3 separate regions of the Homo sapiens genome follow, and all the other regions are linked to region 3. Evidence: fine-mapped expression QTL. A gene starts in region 3. Each other region holds a variant in brackets. All regions are shown on one strand. Distances are from middle to middle.

Evidence for each region. PIP is the estimated chance that this variant, and not a neighbour inherited with it, causes the effect.
Region 1: its variant is fine-mapped to the expression of MRPL15 in whole blood (INTERVAL, PIP above 0.99).
Region 2: its variant is fine-mapped to the expression of MRPL15 in prefrontal cortex (BrainSeq, PIP 0.95).

Annotation. Positions count from the first base shown.
Region 1 is chr8:54,066,156-54,074,343 of GRCh38, forward strand. All of the region lies in intron 2 of LYPLA1-TCEA1 (LYPLA1-TCEA1 readthrough), which reads right to left. The region is part of intron 2 of LYPLA1 (lysophospholipase 1); the gene reads right to left. It also overlaps the pseudogene CRIPTOP5. Among named protein-coding and RNA genes, the nearest start is that of LYPLA1, 32 kb to the right of the region's middle. RefSeq lists an enhancer at 5,062-5,161. The variant G/C (reference allele first, on the strand shown) is at 3,283.
Region 2 is chr8:54,151,672-54,159,859 of GRCh38, forward strand. It overlaps the pseudogene RNU6ATAC32P. Among named protein-coding and RNA genes, the nearest start is that of MRPL15, 21 kb to the left of the region's middle. The variant G/A (reference allele first, on the strand shown) is at 3,796.
Region 3 is chr8:54,130,331-54,138,490 of GRCh38, forward strand. MRPL15 (mitochondrial ribosomal protein L15) reads left to right here and starts at 4,911. Exons shown (of 5, transcript NM_014175.4): 1 at 4,911-5,061; 2 at 6,181-6,335; 3 at 6,938-7,103. The coding sequence starts at 4,954.

The sequences.
Region 1 (8,188 bases), 64 kb before region 3:
CTTGATCTCCTGACCTCGTGATCCGCTCGCCTCGGCCTCCCAAAGTGCTGGGAATACAGGCGTGAGCCATCACACCCGGCCTAAAAATATCTTTAAAATGTGGGCCCTCAATACTATTAAAACAACACCATGAATCTAAAAAGAACCCAGCAGCTGTTAAGTTTTACCTAGGGATAAGGATGATTTCTCAGATTTCTGAACAGCAGTGTGTGCCCCTTCAGATATTTCCACAGGGCTTCACAACTTCCAAACTATAGATATATTTTTAAAATGTCTTTATACAATGTGTTTATAAAGTAGGCAAGAGAAATAATTAACATTTTACACAAAGAAAAAAAGCCTTGGCCGGGTGCAGTGGCTCACGCCTGTAATCCTAGCACTTTGGGAGGGTGAGGCAGGAAGATCACCTGAGGTCAGGAGTTCAAGACAAGCCTGCCCAACATAGTGAAACCCCATCTCTACTAAAAATACAAAAATTAGCCAGGCATGGTGGTGTGCACCTGTAGTCCCAGCTACTCAGGAGGCTGAGGCAGGAGAATTGCTTGAACCCAGGAGGTGGAGGCTGCAGTGAGCCGAGATCACGCCACTGCACTCCAGCCTGGGCAACAGAGCGAGACTCCATCTCAAAAAAAAAGAAAAGAAAAAAAAGAAAAAGAAAAAAGCCTCAGATAAATAAACTAAATCAGTTGTCTAACATCTCTACATGCTTACTACACTATTTAAAAACAGTAACTTTCACCTGGGCACAGTGGCTCATGCTTACAAGCACTTTGGGAGACTGAAGCATGCGGATCACTTGAGTCCAGAGTTCGAGACCAGCCTGGCCAACATGGTGAAACCCTGTCTCTACTAAAAATACAAAAACTAGCTGGGCGTTTTTGTGCATTGCCTGTAATCCCAGCTACTCAGGAGGCTGAGGCAGGAGAATCGCTTGAACCAGGAGGCAGAGGTTGCAGTGAGCCAAGACTAGACCACTGCACCCCAGCCTGGGCAACAGAGTGAGACTCCATCTCAAAATAAATAAATAAGTGAGTAAATAAAATAAAAACAGCAACTTTCGCTGAGCATGGTGGCTCATGTCTATAATCCCAGCACTTTGAGAGGCTGAGGTAGGAGGACAGCTTGAGACCAGGAGTTTAAGACCAGCCTAAACAATATAGTAAGACCCACTCTACAGAAAACTTAAGAAAAAAAAATTTTTTAATCCAGCAACTTTAATATTTCTTCATGCGTACATGTTCACATACATACACGTTCAAAGCAGAACATGGAATAATTGAAAAATTATAAATAATCAAATCCTTCTAGCCAGGAATAAACAGTTAATTTTCTGATGCATTTCCTTCTGATTTTTCCCATGCATGTCAATTAAGGAATAGATGCACATTTTACAAAACAGGGATCATGTTATACATATAGTTTCCTGCTTATTTACATTTGGCCATATACTTGATGCTTTTTACATATTATCTCTACTAAAGAATAAAGTACCAGTAATTTCAGCCTTTCTTACATCAAAGAGTCTTGATGAATGTTAATTTTTTTTTTTTTTTTTTTTGAGACAGAGTCTTGCTCTGTTGCCCAGGCTGGAGTGCAGTGGCGCGATCTCGGCTCACTGCAAGCCCCACCTCCCGGGCTCACACCATTCTCCTGCCTCAGCCTCCCGAGTAGGCGCCCGCCACCACACCAGCTAAATTTTTTTTTTGTATTTTTAGTAGAGACGGGGTTTTACTGTGTTAGCCAGGATGGTCTTGATCTCCTGACCTCATGATCCGTCTGCCTCAGCCTCCCAAAGTGCTGGAATTACAGGCGTGAGCCACCATGCCCAGCCCCCTGTTAAATACTTTTCTATTAACTATTTTTCTATTTCAACCCACTTCCCCCAAAGTGTTAAAGACATATAAAAAGATTAGTAACAACAGTATTAACTGCAATACTTACATAACATTAACTATAACCAGGATATTATATAGGAGTTTTGTGTATATGCACATGTGTATATGTGTAAATAGCTATGTTAAAGACTTTTTTCTGAAAACTATAAAACATATTAAGAAATACAAGAAAATCTATATAAATGGAAGGATATCCCACTTTCATGGACTGGGAGATATAATATTTTAAAGACGGCAGTACTCTCAAATTGATCTATGGAGTCAATGCAATCTTTAACAGAATACCACCTGACTTTGCACATATTAGAACCCGATCTAAAATTTGTATGGAAACTCAAGAGACCCAGAATAACAACAACAACAAAAATCTTGAAAAAGAACAAAATTAGAGGACTCACACTTCTTAATCTCAAAAATTCCTACCAAGTAACATTCAGAAAGACTAGTACTAGAGTACAGACAGACATATAAATCAACCGAAAATCCAGAAATAAAACCTCACATTTACTGTCAAACTTATTTCTGAAACAAATCAACAGGGAAGGAATAGTCTTTTTAACAAAAGTAGCTGGGACAAGTGGATATCCACATGTAATACAAAGAAGTTGGACTGCTACCTCATACCATATGTAAACACTGACCAAATACCTAAATGTAAGAGATAAAACTATAAAACTAGAAGAAAACACACATACATCTTTGTGACCTCAGATCTGGCAATTTCTTAGATATAACATCAAAAGCACAACCGACAAGAAAAAAATAGATAAATTAGAAATCATCAAAATTAACTGTTGTGTTTCAAAGGACACTATGAAGAAAATGAAAAGACAACTTACATAGTGGGAAAAATGTTTGCAAATCACATCTAATTAAAGTGTCTAGTATCCATAATAAAAAAAACTTGCAACTCACAAACAAAAAGACAACCCAATTAAAAAATATGCAAAAGACTTGATGAGATGTTTGTCCAAAGAAGATATACAAATGGCCAAAAAGCACAGGAAAAGATGCTGAACATCATTAGTCATTAAGGAAACATAAATCAAAGCCCCAATGATACATCACTTCATACTCACTAGGATGGCTATCAATATAATGATGAAAGGAATAAATTCTGGTGTTCTGTAGCACTGTTGAGTGAATATGGTTAACTACAATTCAGTGTATATTTTCAAAATGCTAGAAGAAAGGGTGTTGAATGTTCACAATGCAAAGAAACGATAAATGTTTGAGGTGATGGATATGCTAATTACCCTGATTTGATTCTTACATGTTGTATACATGTATCAAAATATATCACTCAGTATCCCATAAATATGAACAATTATGTATCAACTAAAAGTAAAAGGAAAAGAAAAAATACTTTAAAAAAAACTTTGGCCAG[G/C]CATGGTGGCTCATGCCTGTAATCCCAGCACTTTGGGAGGCCAAGGCGGGCAGATCCCTTGAGTCCAGGAGTTCAAGACCTGCTTGGCCAACATGGTGAAACCCCGTCTCTACTAAATCTATGAAAATTAGCTGGGCGTGGTGCGCACCTGTAGTCCCAGCTACTCAGAAGCTGAGGCTGGAGAATCATTTGAACCTGGGAGGCAGAGATTGCAATGAGCTGAGATTGTGCCACTCCACTCCAGCCTGGGCGACAGAGTGAGACTCTGTCTCGTTTAAAAAAAAAAAAAAGGAATATACTAAATGTCATGAATTGTTCACATTAAAAGGGTTAGTTTTATGTCATGTGAATTTTACCTCGAATTAAACAAAAAAGACATCTCAATAAAAAAATAGGCAAAAGACTTGAATAGACATTTCTCAGACAAATGAATGGTTAATACACCATGAAAAGATGCTCAACATCATTAGTCATTAGAAAATGCAAACCAAAACCACTGTGAGATACCACTTCATACCTACCGGAATGGTTATCGTAAAAATGACAAATAATAGCCAAGTGTTAAAGGGTATGGTGAGAAATCAGAACCCTCATACACTGTTGGTAGAAATGTAAATGGTGCAGCGACTTTAGATAACCTTTAGGTTCTCAAAAGGATAAATATGAAGTTACCATATCCAGCAATTCTATTCCTAGGTCTATACCGAAGAATAGTGAAAAAATATGTCCAGTACAGATGTGGTGGCTCATGCCTGTAAACCCAGCTACTCGGGAGGCTGAGGCAGGAGAATTGCTGGAACCCGGGAGGCGGAAGTTGCGGTGAGCCGAGATCGTGCCACTGCAGTCCAGCCTGGGCAACAAGAGTGAAACTCCATCTCAAAACAAAAACAAAAACACAACAACAAAAAACTTGTACACAAATGTTCTTTTTTAGCAGTATTACGCAACTTCAAGGTGCAAACAACCCAAATGTCCATCAAATGATGGATGAATAAACAAAATGAGGCCAGGCGTGGTGGCTCATACGGTAATCCCAGCACTTTGGGGAGGCCAAGGCTGGCAGATCACCTGAGGTCAGGGGTTCGAGACCAGCCTGGTCAACATGGTGAAACCTGTCTCTACTAAAAATACAAAAATTAGCCAGGCTTGATGGCGCATGCCTGTAGTACCAGCGACTGGGGAGACTGAGGTAGAAGAATCACTCAAACCCGGGAGGAGGAGGTTGCAGTGAGCTGAGATCACACCACTGTACTCCAGCCTGGGCGGCAGAGCGAGACTCCATCTCAAATAAAGAATAAAATAAAATAAAATGAGGCACAGCCATACAACGGAGTATGATTCAACAATGAGAAGGAAGTACTGACATGCTATAGCACGGATGAGCCTTGAAAACAATGTTAAGTGAAAGAAGCCAGTTACAATAGAACACAAATGAAAGAGTATAGGGTTTCTTTTTGAGGCAATGAAAATGTTCTAAAATTGACTGTGGTGATGGTTGCAAAACTTACGGTGAATACATCTAAAACCATCAAATTACACACTTTAAATGAGTGAATTGTGTGGTATATGAATTATATGTCAATAAAACTGGTACCAAAAATAAAGACGAAGAATGCATGACTGGACCCAGTCATGAGGAACCATTAGACAGACTCAAGTTGAAGAGTCACTCTGCAGAATATGCAGAACTGAAGGCTGTGGCTATATGCTTTAAAACTGCAAAGGAAATGAAAGAAGAACTGATAAACAGTTTCAGACTCAAGACATGACAGCTCAAATGAACACATACTCCTGGAAAGGATCTCAGGCCAGAAAGGAAACGGACACAGCTGAGAAAGCTGGCAAAACTTCAATGGAGTCTGTGGACTGGATATAGTGTTTAATCAATGCTCATCTCCTAATTTGGAGTGTTGTATGTTGGTTATGTACAAGTATCCTTGTGCATGGGAAATACACATGAGAGTATTTAGAGGTGATAGGAACATGTTTGCAGGTTTATCTCAAGAGTTAAAAAAAGACTCATCTATATATACGTACATATATATACAGGGTGGGGGCGTGGACAAGCACACACAGGACTGAGTGCACACACAATGGAACACACGCAGTAAAAGATGAACCAAGGAAGCTCCATGACAGCGATATGAGATTTTTTTGTACAAAAAGCACACATTTTATTTTAAAAGTGTGAGTTACAATTGCCACAAAAAGAATAAAATACCTAGGAATACAGCTAACCAGGGAGGTGAAAGATCTCTACAACAAGAATTACAAAACGCTGCTCAAAGAAATCAGAGATGACACAAACAAGTGGAAATGCATTCCATGCTCATGGATAGGAAGAATCAATACTGTTAAATGGCCATACTGCCCAAAGCAATCTACAGATTCAATGCTATTCCTATCAAACTACCAATGACATTCTTCACGGAATTAGGAAAAAATGTTTTAAAATTCACATGGAACCAAAAAAAGAGCCCAAACAGACAAGGCAATCCTAAGCAAAAAGAACAAAGCTGGAGGCATCATGTTACTGGACTTCAAACTATGCTACAGGGGTACAATAACCAAAACAGCATGGTACTGGTACAAAAACAGACACATAGACCAATCAAACAGAATAGACAGCACAGAAGTAAGGTCACACACCTACAACTATTTGATACTCAACAAAGCTGACAAAAACAAGCAATGGGAAAAAGGACTCCCCAGTCAATAAAAAGTGCCAGGATAACTGGGTGACCATATGCAGATGATAGAAACTGGACCCCCACCTAACACCACATACAAAAATCAACTCAAGATGGATTCAAGACTTAAATGTAAAACCCCTAACTATAAAAACTCGAAAGACAACCTAGGAAATACCATTTTAGACATAGGACTTGTCTAAGATTTCATGGTGAAGACGCCAAAAGCAACTGCAACAAAAACAAAAATTGACAAATGAGATCTAATTAAACTAAGGAGCTATTGCACAGCAAAAGAAACTATCAACAGAGTAAACAAACATCCTGCAGATGGAAGAAAATATATGCAAACTGCGCACCCAACAAAGGTCTAATATCCAGAATCTATAAGGAACTTAAATTTACAAGTAAAAAACAAACCACCTAGCTGTTCTGTGGTGTAGCCATTCTTTTATTCCTTTACTTTCTTAATAAACTTGCTTCCACTTTACTGTTAAAAAAAAAAAAATCAAACAACCCCATTGAAAAGTAGACAAAAAACATGAACAGACACTTTTCAAAAGACAGGCTGGGCGTGGTCGTGGCTCATGCCTGTAATCCCAGCACTTTGGGTAGCGGAGGCGGGCGGATCACTTGAGGTCAGGAGTTCGAGACCAACCTAGCCAACATAGTGAAACCCTACCTCTACTAAAAATACAAAAAATTAGCCAGGCGTGGTGGTGCGTGCCTGTAGTCCCAGCTACTCAGGAGGCTGAGGCAGGAGAATTGCTTGAACACTCCAGCTTGGCGACAGAGCAAGACTGAATCAAAAAAAAAAAAAAAAAAGACATACATGTGGCCAACAAGCATATGAAAACATGCTCAAGATCATTAATGATTAGAGAAATGCAAATCAAAACCACAACAAAATACCATCTCACAGCAGGCAGAATGGCTATCATCAAAAAGTCAAAAAAGGTCGTTAAGGGTTGGGCCATCAGGAACTTGCGCGTCCATCTCAGGGAGACCTGGCCTTCAGAGATGACAGCATTCAGCCCCAGGAGGAGCCTGCAATTCATCCTCGGTCTTCCCAACTTGTGCCGCCCAGGGAGATACAGGACAGTAAGGAACTAAACAGAACCTGCTGTCTGAATGGGGGAACCTGCATGCTGGGGTCCTTCTGTGCCTGCCCCCTCTCCTTCTATGGACGGAACTGTGAGCATGATGTGTGCAAAGAGAACTGTGGGTCTGTGCCCCATGACACCTGGCTGCCCAAGAAGTGTTCCATTTGTAAATGCTGGCACGGCCAGCTCCGCTGCTTTCCTCAGCCATTTATCTACCTGGCTGTGATGGCCTTGTGATGTATGGCATCTCATAGCTTCCAGGACTCCAGAACTACCAGCATCTACACTGCCACTTCTATGCCAGCTGGCATCTGCTTTTCTATACAAAGTTACTATTAATCGACACTGACCTATTTACAGAAGTATAATTTTAGATATCATGCAAATTTCATGACCAGTAAAGGCTGCTGCTACAATGTCCTAACAGAAAGATGACCATTTGTTAGTTGCCTTAAAATAATGAATACATTTCCAAAATAGTCTCTAACATTTCCTTATAGTACCAACTACTTCCTACCTCTTTGCCCTGCCCTCCCCCAAAAAACTACTTCTTTTTTCAAAAGTCAGCCATATCTCCATTGTGCCCAAGTCCAGTGTTTCTTGATACATGTAATTCTACCAAAGTCTTCTTAATATGTTCTTTTAAACAATTGAATTATATCTTCAGATTATTAGAGACTAATCCTAATGTGGACCTTAGGATAGTTTTGAGTAGAGGTGATCAAAATCAATTAAAATAGTCTCTTTAAAAGGAAAGAAAGCAGCCAGGTGTGGTGACTCATGCTTGTAATCCCAGCACTTTGGGGAGGCCGAGGTGGGCGGATCACGAGGTCAGGAGATTGAGACCATCCTGGCTAACATGGTGAAACCCCATCTCTACTAAAAATACAAAAATTAGCTGGGTGTGGTGGCGGGAGCCTGTAGTCCCAGCTACTTGGGAGACTGAGATAGGAGAATGGCGGGAACCCGGGAGGCAGAGCTTGCAGTGAGCCGAGATCGTGCCACTGCACTCCAGCCTGGGCGACAGAGCCTTTAATAGTCATAGATTAAAAAGACTGTTTCTTTACCATCCCCTTAGCTGAGCAAGACTGTGAACGGTTTACATTTACAATT
Region 2 (8,188 bases), 21 kb after region 3:
CTGAGTAGCTGGTAGCTGGGACTACAGGCACCTGCCACCACGCCTGGCTCATTTTTTGTATTTTTAGTGGAGACAGGGTTTCATGGTGCTAGCCAGGATGTTTTCTTGATCTCCTGACCTTGTGATCCGCTTGCCTCGGCCTCCCAAAGTGCTGGGATTACAGGCATGAGCCACCGCACCCAGCCTCCTTTACTTTCTTAATAAACTTGCTTTCACTTTATGGATTGACTCACCCCAAATTCTTTCTTGCCCAAGATTCAAGAACCTCTTGGGGTCTGGATCGGGACCCCTTTCCCGTAACAATGACAAAGCACAGGAAACCATCTGAGAAGAAGCATTCACTTTGTTCTATGCCTGCTTTTAATAAACATTTTTAATAATAAAGCCATCTTCCTATGTTAAATATTTTACAAAGTGTCTTTTTTTTTTTTTTTTTTTTTGAGACGGAGTCTCGCTCTGTCGCCCAGGCTGGAGTGCAGTGGCGCAATCTCAGCTCACTGCAAGCTCCACCTCCCCAGGTTCATGCCATTCTCCTGCCTCAGCCTCCCGAGTAGCTGGGACTATAGGCGCCCGCCACCACGCCCGGCTAATTTTTGTTTGTTTGTTTGTTTTGTTTTTGTATTTTTAGTAGAGACGGGGTATCACCATGTTAGCCAGGATAGTCTCGATTTCCTGACCTCGTGATCCGCCCGCCTCAGCCTCCCAAAGTGCTGGGATTACAGGCGTGAGCCACCATGCCCGGCCTTAAATATTTCAAAAGTCCTATTTGCATATAACATAGGGAGGAAAAGAGAGGATAAGATACAAAGAAGGTTGCTAAGAAAAGCGCCAAGGTACAAAGAATGTGTTTTTGGCCAGGCGTGGTGGCTCACGCCTGTAATCCCAGCACTTTGGAAGGCAGAGGTGGGCGGATCACCTCTGAGGTCAGGGGTTCGAGACCAGCCTGGCCAACATGGTGAAACACCCGTCTCTACTAAAAATACAAAAATTAGCCGGGTGTGGTGGTGCGTGCCTATAATCCCAGCTACTTTGGGAGGTTGAGGTGGGAGAGTCACTTGAACTTGGGAGATGGAGGTTGCAGTGAGCTGAAATTAAAAAAAAAAAAGAAGAATTCTTAGAGTACAGTGAGATGAAGATAAAAACATAGTGAGATGCCAGGAACTCTGTGTTTGTTAAGGGGAGGGCTAACCTTCTCTCCTTTCATACAACACATTTTCTGAATATTCATTATTGGGGTATTTAAATTGCGCTCTCTTATTCTTAAGCCATTTAAAATGGAATCTATTAGACAAATCACTTCATCTTTTAGACTGTAAAATACAATGACAAGCTTTGTAAAATATGAGGACTGTGTAAAATGACCTCTAAAGTCTGTTGTAATACACTGATGATAAAGATGTTCCCTTGGGCTGAGGAAAACTTCTCTGACCTCAACCTATTTGCATAGAAATGAACTTCCTTAAATTTAAACACATCCTGTGTTCTGTATTCATGTAAGAGGTTCCATTTTTTTCATATCAGAGTGTACTGGCTTTGCTTTAGGTAAGTTACTGCCTTGCCTTATTTGTGCCACAGGAGGTTTTCCATTTGTGATTCAGTTCACAATTGTATGTTTGGAGGGGCTGGTACTGCCTCAACAGGAAAAGTTCTTAATGGGGAACAAGGGAGGAAGTTAGTCACCTAAAGATAGACTGCACAGGCAACAGCCTTCCAGGCTCAGAGTGACCCTTGGGTTCCCTCCCCCATCCTCCAAGTAGAATGACTACACTACCCTAACAACAGTTACGGAAGGGAAAAGAGACAGTCAAACATTAGACTTACTTCACTGTGGTTGTCTTAGGTGGCCTACAGGTGAAAGGAAATTGGGAAAGAATGATAAAGGAAAGAAAGAAAACAGGAAACAGATGTCTGGTGATGAATAATGCTCAGATAGTACTTACTCAGTGAGCATGGGCTTAGTCACAAACAGCTGTATCCTGGTCTCAATATTAGAATCGTGCAGATAAGTTCTCAGCCAAAACAGGCACGTTCCACAAAATCTGTCTATTCTGTTTAATAAAGTTAATCCTCAAATTGCTGTATAGCCGGGAGACTCAAGTTCATTGTAACTACGCAGCAATACTGGGCTCTATGATGCTGATATACCATGGCCCTTCAGCCGTGTACAAGGATAATGGGGCAGAGAGTGTGCTAGCAGATGGTATTGTTATCTTGTTAAGGGTTCATATTACTTGGAAATCTAAGAATAAAAGTAAGAATGCTTCAGTCTAGATTTTAGTCCTCTCGTGGTATGTGGCTTCCAGTATATGTGGCTAGTTTGCATCCAATCCATTGAGTTAATATGGATTTTAAAATATTTTTTTAACTCCTTAGAGAAATAATTGCTAGGGATTTCCTGTCTATTGAGTTCCCGGGTTTTCTTTTTTAAAAATGCTACTCTCTGTTCTTTGACAATGAGAGTGGCTCTACCATAGCCGGGGAAGATGTCAGATAACAGCAGTGTAACCCAATTTAGTTCGTGTCAGAGAAAAAAGTGCGCTCTCTGATGTTCGCACAGATCCCAGAATGGCTGCATTTTGATGCTTTACTGAAAAGACATAGCATGGTTGAAGTAGCACAGCTTCCATGTCACCAAACCTGGATTTGAATCCAGGCTCTGACAGCAGCTGTGTGACCTCGGGCACATCACATAACTGCTGTGCTCTCATCTGTCTCACATGTGAAATGGAGATAATCATACCCACCTCTGTGCTTCTGTGTTTGGGAGACCCAGTGAGGTTATTTGCGGGGAGACACGAAGCTCAGCCAGTTTGCAGAGCCACCTGGAGCAGTTTACTTGGGCTCAGATGCCAAGACTAGCTGTGTGACCTTGATATGTTACTTAATATCTCTGCCTCAGTCTCACCATCTGAAAAATGGGGGATGATTAATCCTAATGCATATGGGTATGAAGATTGAAAGAAGTCAATATTTGTAAAGCACTTACCATAATGCCTGACACATAAGTGCCTCTGTAAGTGTTCATAAATCAAGTTTTTTTTTTTGAGACAGAGTCTCGCTCTGTCGCCAGGCTGGAGTGCAGTGGTGTGATCTCAGCTCACTGCAAGCTCCGCCTCCTGGATTCAAGTGATTATCCTGCCTCAGCCTCCTGAGTAGCTGGGATTATAGGCACCTGCCACCACACCCGTCTAATTTTATATTTTTAGTAGAGACAGGGTTTCACCATTTTGGTCAGGCTGGTCTTGAACTCCTGACCTTACATGATCCACCTGCCTCAGCCTCCCAAAGTGCTGGCATTATGGGCGTGAGCCACCATGCTCGACCTCACTTGGCATAATGTTTTGAAAGTTATCCATGTGGTGGCATGTTCCAGTACCTCATTCTTTTTTATGGCCAACTAGCTTTCCATCGTGTGGAGTGTGTATGCATTCATCAGTTGGTGGACATGTGGATTGTTTCCATGGTGGGGCTATTATAAATAATGCTACTGTAAACATATGTTTGCAAGTCTTTATGTGAACATGTTTTTCTTTTTCTTGGGAATATATTTAGCAGTGGAATTGCTGAGTAGATTAGCAAATTTATGTTTAACTTTTTTTTTTTTTTTTGAGACAGTGTCTCACTGTGTCACCCAGGCTGGAGTGCAGTGGCACCATCTTGGCTCACTGCAACCTCTGCCTCCCGGGTTCAAGCGATTCTCGTGTCTCAGTCTCCTGAGTACCTGGGATTACAGGTGCGCACCTCCATAGCCCACGTAATTTTTTTGTATTTTTAGTAGAAATGGGGTTTCACTAT[G/A]TTGCCTAGGCTGGTCTCGAACACCTGGCCTCAAGTGATCCACCTGCCTCAGCCTCCCAAAGTGCTGGGATTACAGGTGTGAGCCACCATGCCTGGCCCATGTTTGACTTTTAAAGAAACTGCCAAATTGTTTTCCTAAGTGGCTGCACCATGTTACTCCCCCACAAGAAATGAATGTTCCTGTTTCTCACATCCTTGCCAACATTTGTTATTATCTGCATTTTTGATGATAACCATTCTAGTGGGCACGAAATGGTTTCTCATTGTGGGTTTGATTTGCATTTCACTAATAATGATGTGGAACATGTGGAATGAGAATAGCTTCTTGGCCATTTGTATGTAAGAGACTTCATATTCTTCTATGTACTTGAAATTTTATAAAGATAATTCTGATGATTATCGAGCATCCATATATATAGGAGTTTTTAAAAGCTTTATCTGTTCATCTTATTCAATCCTCACCAGACCCTTTTATTTATGCCATTTTATAGTTGAAAAAAATTGAGGCACAGAGAGGTCAAGTATTTAGTATGAGGACATCTAGCTCGAAAGAAGTATTAGGGCTAAGATTTAAACCCAAGTCAACTGGCTCCAGAGACAATGTTCTTTTTTTTTTTTTTTGAGACGAAGTTTCACTCTTGTTGCCCAGGCTGGAGTGCAGTGGCACGATCTCCGCTCACTGCAACCTCTGCCTCCCAGGTTCAAGCGATTCTCCTGCCTCAGCCTCCCAAGTACCTGGGATTACAGGCATGCACCATGCCTGGATAATTTTGTATTTTTAGTGGAGATGGGGGTTTCACCTTGTTGGTCAGGCTGGTCTCGAACTCTTGACCTCAGGTTATCCGCCCGCCTCAGCCTCCCAAAGTGCTGGGATTACAGGTGTGAGTCACTGCACCTGGCCTATGTTCTTGGATACTAGACAAACAGTTGTTATATACACATAGTACATTAAAATGATTTAAATGTTTTTATTATAGTAACATTTACATGACACAAAATGTACAATTTCAACCGTTCGTAAGTGTACATTAAGTCGCTTTAAGTGCATGATATACATTAAGTGCATTCACAAGGTTATGCAACAATCACTGCTATCCATTTCCAGAACTTTTTCATCATTCCAAACCTAAACTCCATTCAATTAAACTGTAACTCTCCATTTTCTCCTGCCCCAGCCCTTTGTAACTATATTATTCTACTTTCTGTCTATGAATTTGTCTATTCTATGTATCTCATATAAGTGGCACCATATGATATTTGTCCTTTTGTGTCTGGCCTGTTTTACCTAGTTCATGTGGTTCATCCATATGACAGCATGTATCAAAATTTCATTCTTAAATTTAAAAAAATTTTAATTGTGGTACAATACATATCACACAAGGCCGGATGTGGTGGTTCATGCCTGTAATCCCAGCACTTTGGGAGGCTGAGGCAGGCAGATTACCTGAGGTCAGGAATTCAAAACCAGCCTGGCCAACATGGCAAAACCCCGTCTCTACTATAAATACAAAAATTAGCTGGGCATGGTGGCGGGCGCCTGTAATCCCAGCTACTTGGGAAGCTGAGGCGGGAAAATCCCTTGAACTTGGGAGGTGGAGGTTGCAGTGAGCCAAGATTGCATCACTGCACTCCAGCCTGAGAGACAGAAGGAGACTCTGTCTCAAAACAAACAAACAAAATCACACAAAAAATATCATCTTAACCATTTTTAAGTGTGCAGTTCAATAGTGTTAAGTATGTTCACACTGTTGTGCAGTAGATATCCAGAACTTTTTCATCTTGCAAGATGGAAACTCTGCAAGATGGAAACTCTATACCCCTTTAAACAAACAACTCCCTATTTCTTTCTTTTTCTTTTTCTTTTTCTTTTTCTTTTTTTTGTTTTTGAGACGGATTCTCGCCCTGTCGCCCAGGCTGGAGTGCAATGGCACGATCTCGGCTCACTGCAACCTCCGCCTCCTGGTGCAAGTGATTCTCTGGTCTCATCCTCCTAGTAGCTGAGATTACAGGCGCCCGCCACCATGCCTGGCTAATTTTTTGTATTTTCAGTAGAGACGGGGTTCTCAACATGTCGGCCAGGCTGGTCTTGAACTCTTGACCTCAGGCGATCCACCTGCCTCAGCCTCCCAAAGTGCTGGGATTACAGGCGTGAGTCACCGCACCCAGCCAACAACTCCCTATTTCTTCCTCCCCTCCCCCAGTCCCTGGCAACCACCATTCATCTTTCCTTTTCAATGAATTTGACTACTTTAGATACCTTATTTAAGTGGAATCAGAAGTATTTGTCCTTCTGTGACTGGCTTATTTCATTTAGCATAATGTCTCATGCTTCATTCATCTTGAGCACCTGTCAGAATTTCCTTCCGTTTTAAGACTGAATAATATTCCATCGTATGTATATACCAGATTCTATTTATTCACTCCTCTGTTGAGGGACATTTGGGTTGTTTCCATCTTTTGGCTGCTGTGGTTGATGTTGCCCTGAACATTGGTTTTCAAGTTTGAGTTCTTGCTTTTTTTTTTTTTGATGGAGTCTCACTCTGTCACCCAGGCTGGAGTGCAGTGGTGCAATCTCGGCTTGCTGCAACCTCCAGCTCCCAGGTTCAAGCGATTCTCCTACCTCAGCCTCCCGAGTAGCTGGGATTACAGGTATGTGCTGCCATGCCCGGCTAATATTTTCTGTGTTTTTCCAGTAGAGATAGGGTTTTACCATGTTGGCCAGGCTGGTCTCGAACTCCTGACCTCAGGTGATCCCCCGACTCGGCCTCCCAAAATGTTGGGATTACAGGCATGAGCCACCGCACCTGGCCATGAATTCTTGCTTTCAATTCTTTTGGGTATATACCTAGGAGTGGAATTGCTGGGTCATATGGTTATTCTATGTTTGAACTGTTTTTTTTTTTTTTTGAGATAGAGTCTCACACTGTTGCCCAGGCTGGAGTGCAAGTGGCTCGATCTCAGCTCACTGCAACCTCTGCCTTCCAAGTTCAAGCAGTTCTCTTGGCTCAGCCTTCAGAGCAGCTGGGATTACAGGTGTGTGCCACCACACCCCGCTAATTTTTATATATTTATTAGAGACAGGGCCTCACTATGTTGGCCAGGCTGATCTCCAACTCCTGACCTCAGATTATCTGCCCTGCTTGGCCTACAAGGCACTGTGCAGATAATTTTCAAATATTTATTTGATTAATCATTCCAAGGCTTGTTTATTGAGTACCTCCTAAGTCCCAAACTCTGGGTCTTCCATGCTGAATAAAATACATGGTCTTTGCCCTCATGCAGTTGATAGTCTAAAAGCAGAGTTGTTCACGCAAATGAATATAAAATTGCAATGAAGATAAGTGCTGGAAATGGTGTTTATGTGGGACACGACTGCATACAAGAAGGTAATCTGATTTAGTAAGTGAAATCAGGGAAGGATTCCTTTAGAAGTGACAAAACAAGGGTTGAGAGTGAGCCCAGTGAGGCGATGAGAGCAATCCTTCTGTGCAAAGGGAGCAGCGTGCATCAGGATGCTGTGCCTGAAGGAAGCATTGCGTTACAGAGATCTCAAAGACCTTTTTGGAACAAAAAAGCAAAGAAAGGCTGTAGGAAACAAGGTAAAAGACATTTCATCTTCACAGAAGTTTTTTAAACCTTGGGGTGAAATTCATATACCATAAAGTTGACAACTGAAAACAATTCAGCAGAATGTCATACATTCTCAGTGTTGTGCAACCACCTCCTCCATCTAGTTCCAAAGCATTTCATCACACCAAAAGGAAACTAATAGCCATTAAGCAGTCTGTATTCATCTCTCCCTGCCTCCAGCCCCTGGGAACTACTAATCTGCTTTCTTTCTCTTTTTTTTTTTTTTTGGAGACGGAGTTTCACTCTTGTCACCCAGGCTGGAGTGCAATGGCGTGATCTCAGCTCGCCGCAACCTCTGCCTCCTGGGTTCAAGCAATTCTCCTGCCTCCTGCCTCAGCCTCCCAAGTAGCTGGGATTACAGGTGCCTGCCACCACGCCCAGCTAATTTTTGTATTATTAGTAAAGATGGGGTTTCACCATGTTGGCCAATTTGGTCTCGAACTCCTGACCTCAGATGATCCACCCGCCTCAGCCTCCCAAAGTGCTAGGATTACAGGCATGAGCCACCACTCCCAGCCTATTAATCTGCTTTCTATCTCTACAGAATTATCTATTTTGGATATGTTATGTAAATGAAATCATACACTATGTGGTCTTTTGTGTCTGGCTTCCTTCACTTAATATATTTTCAAGGTTCATCCAATGTTGTAGCATGAACCAGTACTTCATTCCTTTTGATGGCTAAATAATATTCCATTGCATGTATATATGACAACTGTTTATCCACTCATTTGTTGATGAACATTTGGCCTGTTTCTACCTT
Region 3 (8,160 bases):
TAAATTACAAAGTTTACCACGAGAGAAGAAAAATTTTAGGAAGAAATAGCTTAAATTACCTAAATCTTCATTTATCATAAGACAAGAGAATATACAATGCTAAAAATTGATAAAAGGCTGGGTGTGGTGGCTCATTCATGTAATCCCAGCACTTTGGGAGGCCGAGGCAGGAGGATTGCTTGAGCCCAGGAATTCAAGACCAGCTTGGGCAACATGGCAAAAACCCGTCTCTACAAAAATTACAAAAATTAGTTGGGCATGGTGGCGGATACCTGTAGCCCCAGCTACTCAGGTGGCTGAGGTGGGAGGATCACTTGAGCCCAGGAGTTCAAGGTTGCAGTGAGCTGTGATCAGGTCACTGCACTCCAGCCTGGGTGATAGGGCGAAACTTGTCGTCTCAAGGAAAAAAAATGAGCCAGGCTCAGTGGCTCAAGCCTGTAATCCCAACACTTTGGGAGGCCAAGGCAGGTGGATCACCTGAGCTCAGGAGTTGGAGACCAGCCTGGCTAACAAGGTGAAACCCCATCTCTACTAAAAGTACAAAAATTAGCTAGGCATGGTGGCAGGTGCCTGTAATCCCAGCTACGTGGGAGGCTGAGGCAGGAGAATCACTTGAACCCAGGAGGCGCAGGTTGCAGTGAGTCGAGATTGTGCCATTGGACTCCAGCCTGGGTGACAAGAGCAAAACTCCATCTCAAAAAAAAAAAAAAAAGAAATGATAAAAAAATTAGTGAAGTAGACATTTTATTAATTTGTAAACAAGGAGGCAATCATTAGAAGAAACAAAAACAACATTAAAAGTGATTGCTTATGGGAGTGAAACTAGAAATGGAATAGGAAACAACTACTTCTCATTATAAGCCCTTCTGTACTATCTGATTTTTTCAACATATGTAGGCATTACAATACTTCAATAAAATTAAAACCTATTTAGGTGTGAATAAAGACCTTTAGGTTGGAACCAAGTTTTATCAAGGCAAAATTAGTTAAGTTTTATCAAGGGGACATTTATTTCCAGCCCCTTTCCATGCCCTCTTCATAGCCTTCTCTCAATATTAGTTTTCTCCCAATATCAAAGGGATTCATTGTTCTCCTGCCTCTGGCTTTCTCCCACCTTCACTTAGGAATATTGCTTCTCCAGTTATTTTCTGCTCAACTTTTTTTTTTTGAGAGGAGTCTTGCCCTGTTGCCCAGGCTGGAGTACAGTGGCACAATCTCAGCTCACTGCGACCTCCTCCTCCTGGGTTTTAGTGATTCTCCTGCCTCAGCCTCCTGAGTAGCTGGGACTACAGACACCTGCCACCATGCCCAGCTAATGTTTGTATTTTTTGTAGACATGGGTTTCACCATGTTGGCCAGGCTTGTCTCAAACTCCTGACCTCAAGTGATTCACCCACCTGGGCCTCCCAAATTTCTGGGTTTACTAGGATTACAGGTGTGAGCCACTGTGTCCAGCCTATTCCCTTTTATTTTCATTTCCCAGTCCCCTTCTCTGCTAATCCTGAAATTTTCTTTTTTTTTTTTGAGATGGAGTTTCGCTCTGTTGCCCAGGCTGATCTTGGCTCACTGCAACCTCTGCCTCCTGGGATTTCAAGCAATTCTCCTGTCTCAGCCTCCTGAGTAGCTGGGATTACAGGCTCATGCCACCATGCCTGGTTAATTTTTGTATTTTTAGTAGAGACGGGGTTTCACTATGTTGGTCACACTGTTCTCGAACTCCTGATCTCGTGATTCGCTCACCTTGGCCTCCCAAAGAGCTGGGATTACAGGCATGAGCCACCGCGCCCGGCAAAAAAACTTTTTTTTAGAAAAATAATTAACTCAAAGGAATTAATCTATGTTAACACACTGTCAGGTGCTGATATATATATAGATTGGGGAAGATTTCGTGGCAGTGTGTGAAGTCTTCCAAAGCAGTTCAAATTGTATCACTTCATTCTTTTTTTTTTTTTTTTTTCAGACAGAGTTTTGCTCTTGTGGCCCAGGCTGGAGTGCAATGGCGTGATCTTGGCTCACCACAACTTCCGCCTCCGGGGTTCAAGCGATTCTCCTGCCTCAGCCTCCTGAGTAGCTGGGATTACAGGTATGCACTACCACTCCCAGCTAATTTTGTATTTTTATTAGAGATGGCGTTTCTCCATGTTGGTCAGGCTGGTCTCGAACTCCCAGCCTCAGGTGATCCGCCTGCCTTAGCTTCCCAAAGTGCTGGGATTACAGGCGTGAGCCACTGCGCCCGGCTTCATTGTTATTATGTAATGATTCAGCAGTTATTATCAACTGGGGTTGGAATCAGGATGGACCTTAAATAGTTGTTGAGATATTAATGTTTTTATTACAAGTTCTTGTTAACTTGATTTAAACAGGATTTAGCACATCCCAAGCATGTAGGTGGGTAATAAATATGACTTGTGCAATTATGAGGATGACATAAAACTACTATATACTTAAGGTAAGGATTGTTGACTTATTGACCACACACCCTTAATTTACATTCTTACAACACAAACGAAACTCATCAAATTATTTTGACAGTTTTATATGCTTAATCAACATGTTGGATATGGGATAAACAAACACGTAGCCTACAATTAACTGTCAACAATTGTTATTCCCATTATTATTAACTGATGTCCACCAATAACATTATATAACCCATACGACTTCTACTTCCAAGAAGTGCAGCATATTTCTTGTATTTTATTTATTCAATAAAAAAATTTTCCATGATAAAAAACATTACTGGCATTAACACTTAATCAAGAAGTTCATTACTTAATGCAAACAATGATTTTTTGGGGATTGAAAATAATTGTGCACTTTTCTGTAGATTAGGGTACAGTTTGCAATTATATTTTGCAATTTTCTTCCCAAAGGTAGGAAAGTTTAATAAAAACACAATGAAAACTACTGAATTAAAAATCACTAAAGGCAGGCTGGACTCAGTGGCTCACACCTGTAATCCCAGCACTTTGGGAGGCCAAGGCAGGTGGATCATTTGAGGTTAGGAGTTTCAGACAAGCCTGGCCAACGTGGTGAAACCCAGTCTCTACTAAAAAACCAACCAAACAAACAAACTAAAAAAGCTGTACGTTGTGGTGCATGCCTGTAATCTCAGCTACTGGGGAGGCTGAGGCAGGAGAATCGCTTGAACCTGGGTGAGGAGCCTGCAGTGAGCCGAGATGGCGCTACTGCACTCCAGCCTGGGCGACAGAGTGAGATTCCATTTCAAACAAACAAACCAAAAATCATTAAAGGCAGAAAATAGGTTCTATTGCCCCCCACACCCCATTCTATTTCTTCTGTGCTTCTAAATAGAGTCTAGACTTTACCATCATATCATTTTATCGAACTCACATATTTTGTTTTTGCTAATTAGTCTACAAGAGGCCTACTTTTATCTTTAACTTTTAAAAAACATTCACGGGCCAGGCGCCGTGGCTCACGCCTGTAATCCCAGCACTTTGGGAGGCCGAGGCAGGGGGATCACCTGAGGCCAGGAGTTGGAGACCAGCCTGGCCAACATGGCGAAAACCCGTCTCTACTAAACATACAAAAAAAAATTAGCGGGGCGTGCTGGTGAACGCCTGTAATCCCAGCTACTCAGGAGGCGGAGGCGGAAGAATTGCTTGAACCAGAGAGGCAGAGGTTGCAGTGAGCTGAGATTGAACCATTGCACTCTAGCCTAAGCAACAGAGCGAGACTCTGTCTCAAAATAATAATAATAATAATTCACTTTTGGAAACTGTTCCCTACTAGATTTCAAACAACTTGGGAATGAAATCCTATTTGAGTTCATCCATGTGTATTTCCAACAAGTTCAGTGTCTTACTTATAAATAGTACTTGAAGGAATGAATACAACTTTTTCTTTATGTAGTTATTTTACACTTGATTTAAAGGAACTTTAAAAAGACGCAGTTATACCTAGAGACAGACGCCCTCCAAAAATTGTCTCACCTTCATTATTTGTGATTACTAGTTAGAGCTAGCAGAAAAAACTCCCCAGCAAGTGAAATGTCAAACCACTACTAAAAGAAAGAAAAAGAAAGGAACAGTCTTTTCTATATTTAAGTCACTTGAGAGAAAAAAGAAGAGCTGGTATTTTTCGAGTAATAATGTTCGTATTTTGTGATGCAGATACTCAATTTTACATTCTAAAAATACTACTTTTATAGTAGGAAGCAGTGTACGTTTGAATCCTGGCTCTGCCGCTTGTTGCAAGAAGTTGGTCAAGCTATCGGACCTTGCTAAGCCTTCCCTGTTGTAACTGTAAAATGTAGTAACACCATTTACCTCTAGAATGGCTGTAAATCGAGTAAGGCTTATTTAATACAGCGTCTGGCATACACCAGGCATTCAGTATGGCGCCAGTCATTAACAATAGGTGGTTACTAACTGCGATTCACTCAAAACAATACAGATGCACACGGATGAGAGTTCACACTTTGAGTCTTATTCAAAGATTGGTTATTAGCCAGGCATTTTGATAGGTGCACTCAGTTTTATTTTCGTACCTCACGGTGTATAATTACGCAAGCTCAAAAGCTAATAATTGACAGCTCACTTTGCTTTACTCTGGGTTCTGCATTGACCTCAGAGAAGACACGGCCTAGACAAACAGGCAAGGCCCAACACTGACTCAAAAAAGATCCTTTATTTAACGCAGTGTTTTTAGTGCATGCTCTCGTTTGGCGAAAGAGAAGGTTTTACGTTCAGAATATTAAAAGGGACCCCGAGGACAAAGCAGGATCTCGGAAAATAAGATCACATCCCCAAACAACTAAAAGGACAACCGAGACAAGGTTGCAGACTCCCACGCCTCTGCCCGACTCCCGGGCTTGCGCGCGCGGCTGCAGCGCGACAGGGGCGGGGCCACGGCCACAAAGCAGCCCCCGAGACCACGTGGCCTCCGAGCAGCTCAGGGCGCCCTTGAAAGTTCTTGGATCTGCGGGTTATGGCCGGTCCCTTGCAGGGCGGTGGGGCCCGGGCCCTGGACCTACTCCGGGGCCTGCCGCGTGTGAGCCTGGCCAACTTAAAGCCGAATCCCGGCTCCAAGAAACCGGTAAATGGGTGGTGGCGGTGCGGGGAAGCGCTGGGGACCCGGGCGATGAAAGCGGCCCTTCTCTCCCTGTCATTAGGAGAACTGCCCTTTCTAGGAGAGTGTTGGGATGAAAATAGGATTGCCTCATGCCTGTTCTCCCTTACTGCCCAGAGGGGAATCTTTCCACGTGCACCCAGTTCTTTTTTTTTTTTTTTTTTTTTTTTCCGAGACGGAGGCTTGCTCTGTCGCCCAGAAGCAATTCTCCTGCCTCAGCCTCCCGATTAGCTGGGATTACAGGCGCCCGCCATCACGCCCGGCTAATTTTTGTATTTTTAGTAGAGACGTGGTTTCACCGTGTTGGCCAGGCTGGTTTTGAACTCCTGAGCTCGCGATCCGCCTGCCTCGGCCTCCCAAAGTGCTGGGATTACAGGCGTGAGCCACCGCCCCCGGCCGCACCCAGTTCTTAATAAGGTTATGTTTACAAGTGTAAAGATACCAGGCGGAGAAGCCGACTCGCTGAAACTACAAAGTCTTTGTGTCATTCAAAATTGGATTTAAAATGAAATGTTTTCCCGGTGTATCTTTATGTTCATTGGAAAGATCTGAATTGCAGCTGTCCCTTCTGCAGTTGACTAAATAGAGCTAGAAAAGCTGTTAGTTGACAATGTACTGTCATTTTAACAGTCAGTTCATTGCTTTCGTGAAATGACAGGAAATTAAGGAAAAGATTTTCTTCAACAGATCAGTTTTCAAATAAAATTACAGGTTTATGAATAACATTTGCATATTTACAATTAATTTCAGAATAAATTCTTGCCTATCATTTAAAATGTTGTGAATATTTAATTCTAGGATTTTTTTCGGTTTCAACCTATTATAAAAACCTTATCCCCATCCTAACCTTTACTTTTTGCTTTTGAAACACACTTGGACTTTGGTTACAAGAATTAGCTATGTCTTTAGAGGCAAAGATGCTAACAGAGTGTGTGGAGCTTTGAGCAACTAGGACATGCTTGACACAATAGTGTTAGCTAGCACTGGTGGGCTGGATGAATGAACAGCATAACAAAAAGTGAAGAGCTGAAATGCAGTTTTTAGAAATGCATCTGAAATTCATAAAATTCTTTTTTTTCCTTGCAGGAGAGAAGACCAAGAGGTCGGAGAAGAGGTAGAAAATGTGGCAGAGGCCATAAAGGAGAAAGGCAAAGAGGAACCCGGCCCCGCTTGGGCTTTGAGGGAGGCCAGACTCCATTTTACATCCGAATCCCAAAATACGGGTTTAACGAAGGACATAGGTAAGGTTGCTTTGCTTTTTAAAGTACAGGTCCCCAATTTCCATTAAAAAGCACCTAAAAATAGTTTGGTAGAAATTTTGGTGGAAATTGTAAATTCACTTTGAAGCAAACTTTTGCTACTGTTCCCCTGAACCATTTTTTGGTAATGAAATCTTGCCTGGATTATTAAAAGGAAAAGAGGCCCAGACACTGCACTTAGACCTGCAAAATGGAGATTCTAATGCCAGCTCTAATGGTTATTAAAAGAGTGAGCAATAATAGACAGTATACATAAAAATCTGGCCCACTGTAGTCACCTAATAAATGATAACTACCATTATTACTTTGAGCTCCATAGTAAGTTAAATTTTCCACAGATTTATTTGTGTAAATAAGTGAAGTAAATGCTTAGAGAGGGAAATAATTTTTAGTGGAACAAAGGTGGTACAGGTTTGTTTTCATTACCCAAAATCAAGCAGTATTACATGTTTGTGTTACACTCAAGAGGGTTTTGTTTAGTTAAATAAAATTGGTGGAGGAAAACACAAGACAAAGCTTTGAGTTGATTTCGAGAAGTTACAGGAAGATGAGAGTTTTCCAACTCTTACATTCTTGTTTTACAGTTTCAGACGCCAGTATAAGCCTTTGAGTCTCAATAGACTGCAGTATCTTATTGATTTGGGTCGTGTTGATCCTAGTCAACCTATTGACTTAACCCAGCTTGTCAATGGGAGAGGTGTGACCATCCAGCCACTTAAAAGGGATTATGGTGTCCAGCTGGTTGAGGAGGTAAGTCTTGATTAGATCTTTTGGTGTTATATAGGAGGATTTTTTTTTTAGACAGAGTCTTGCCCTGTTGCCTGAGCTGGAGTACAGTGGCGCAATCTCGGCTCCTGCAACCTCCACCTCACAAGTTCAAGTGATTCTCCTGCCTCAGCCTCCTGAATAGCTGGGATTACAGGCACCCACCACCATGCCCAGCTAATTTTATTTGTTTTTAGTAGAGACAGGGTTTCACTATGTTGGCCAGGCTGATCTTGAACTCCTGACCTTAAGTGATCTGCTCACCTCGGCCTCCCAAAGTGCTGGAATTACAGGTGTGAGCCACCATGCCTGGCCCGTAGGAGATATTTTTGATTTCCAGATAATCAGTACTCTACCCCCTTTATTTTTAGCCCATTTGTGTTTATAACTGTTATGTAGTGGTGATAGCTGTGGTTTTGGAAAGCTGTCATACTATCATGGCAGGGCTCTGTCCCTTGGTCCTGGAATGCTGCTCTTCTGCATATCTGTAAAGCTTGCCTTCTTTTTTTTTTGTTTTTGTTTTTGAGATGGAGTCTCGCTCTGTTGCCCAGGCTGGAGTGCAGTGGCACGATCTCGGCTCACTGCAACCTCTGCCTCCTGGGTTCAAGAAATTCTCCTGCCTCAGCCTCCTGAGTAGCTGGGACTATAGTCGTGCGCCACCACACCCGGCTAATTTTTTATATTTTTAGTAGAGATGGAGTTTCGCCATATTGGCCAAGCTGGTCTTGAACACCTGACCTCGTGATCCACCCACCTTGGCCTCCCAAAGTGCTGGGATTACAGGCGTGAGCCACCGCCCACGGCGCCCCCTTCTTTTGGTTCTCTGCTTGAATGTCAACATATCAGGAAGATCTTTTTTTTTTTTTTTTTTTTTTTTTTTTAAATAGAGATGGAGTCTCACTCTGTCTCCCAGGCTGGAGTACAATGGCGCGATCTCAGCTCACTGCCAACCTCTGCTGCCCAGGTTCAAGCTATTCTCGTGCCTCAGCCTCCTGAGTAGGTGGGACTACAGGTGCGTGCCACCACGTCTGGCTAATTTTTT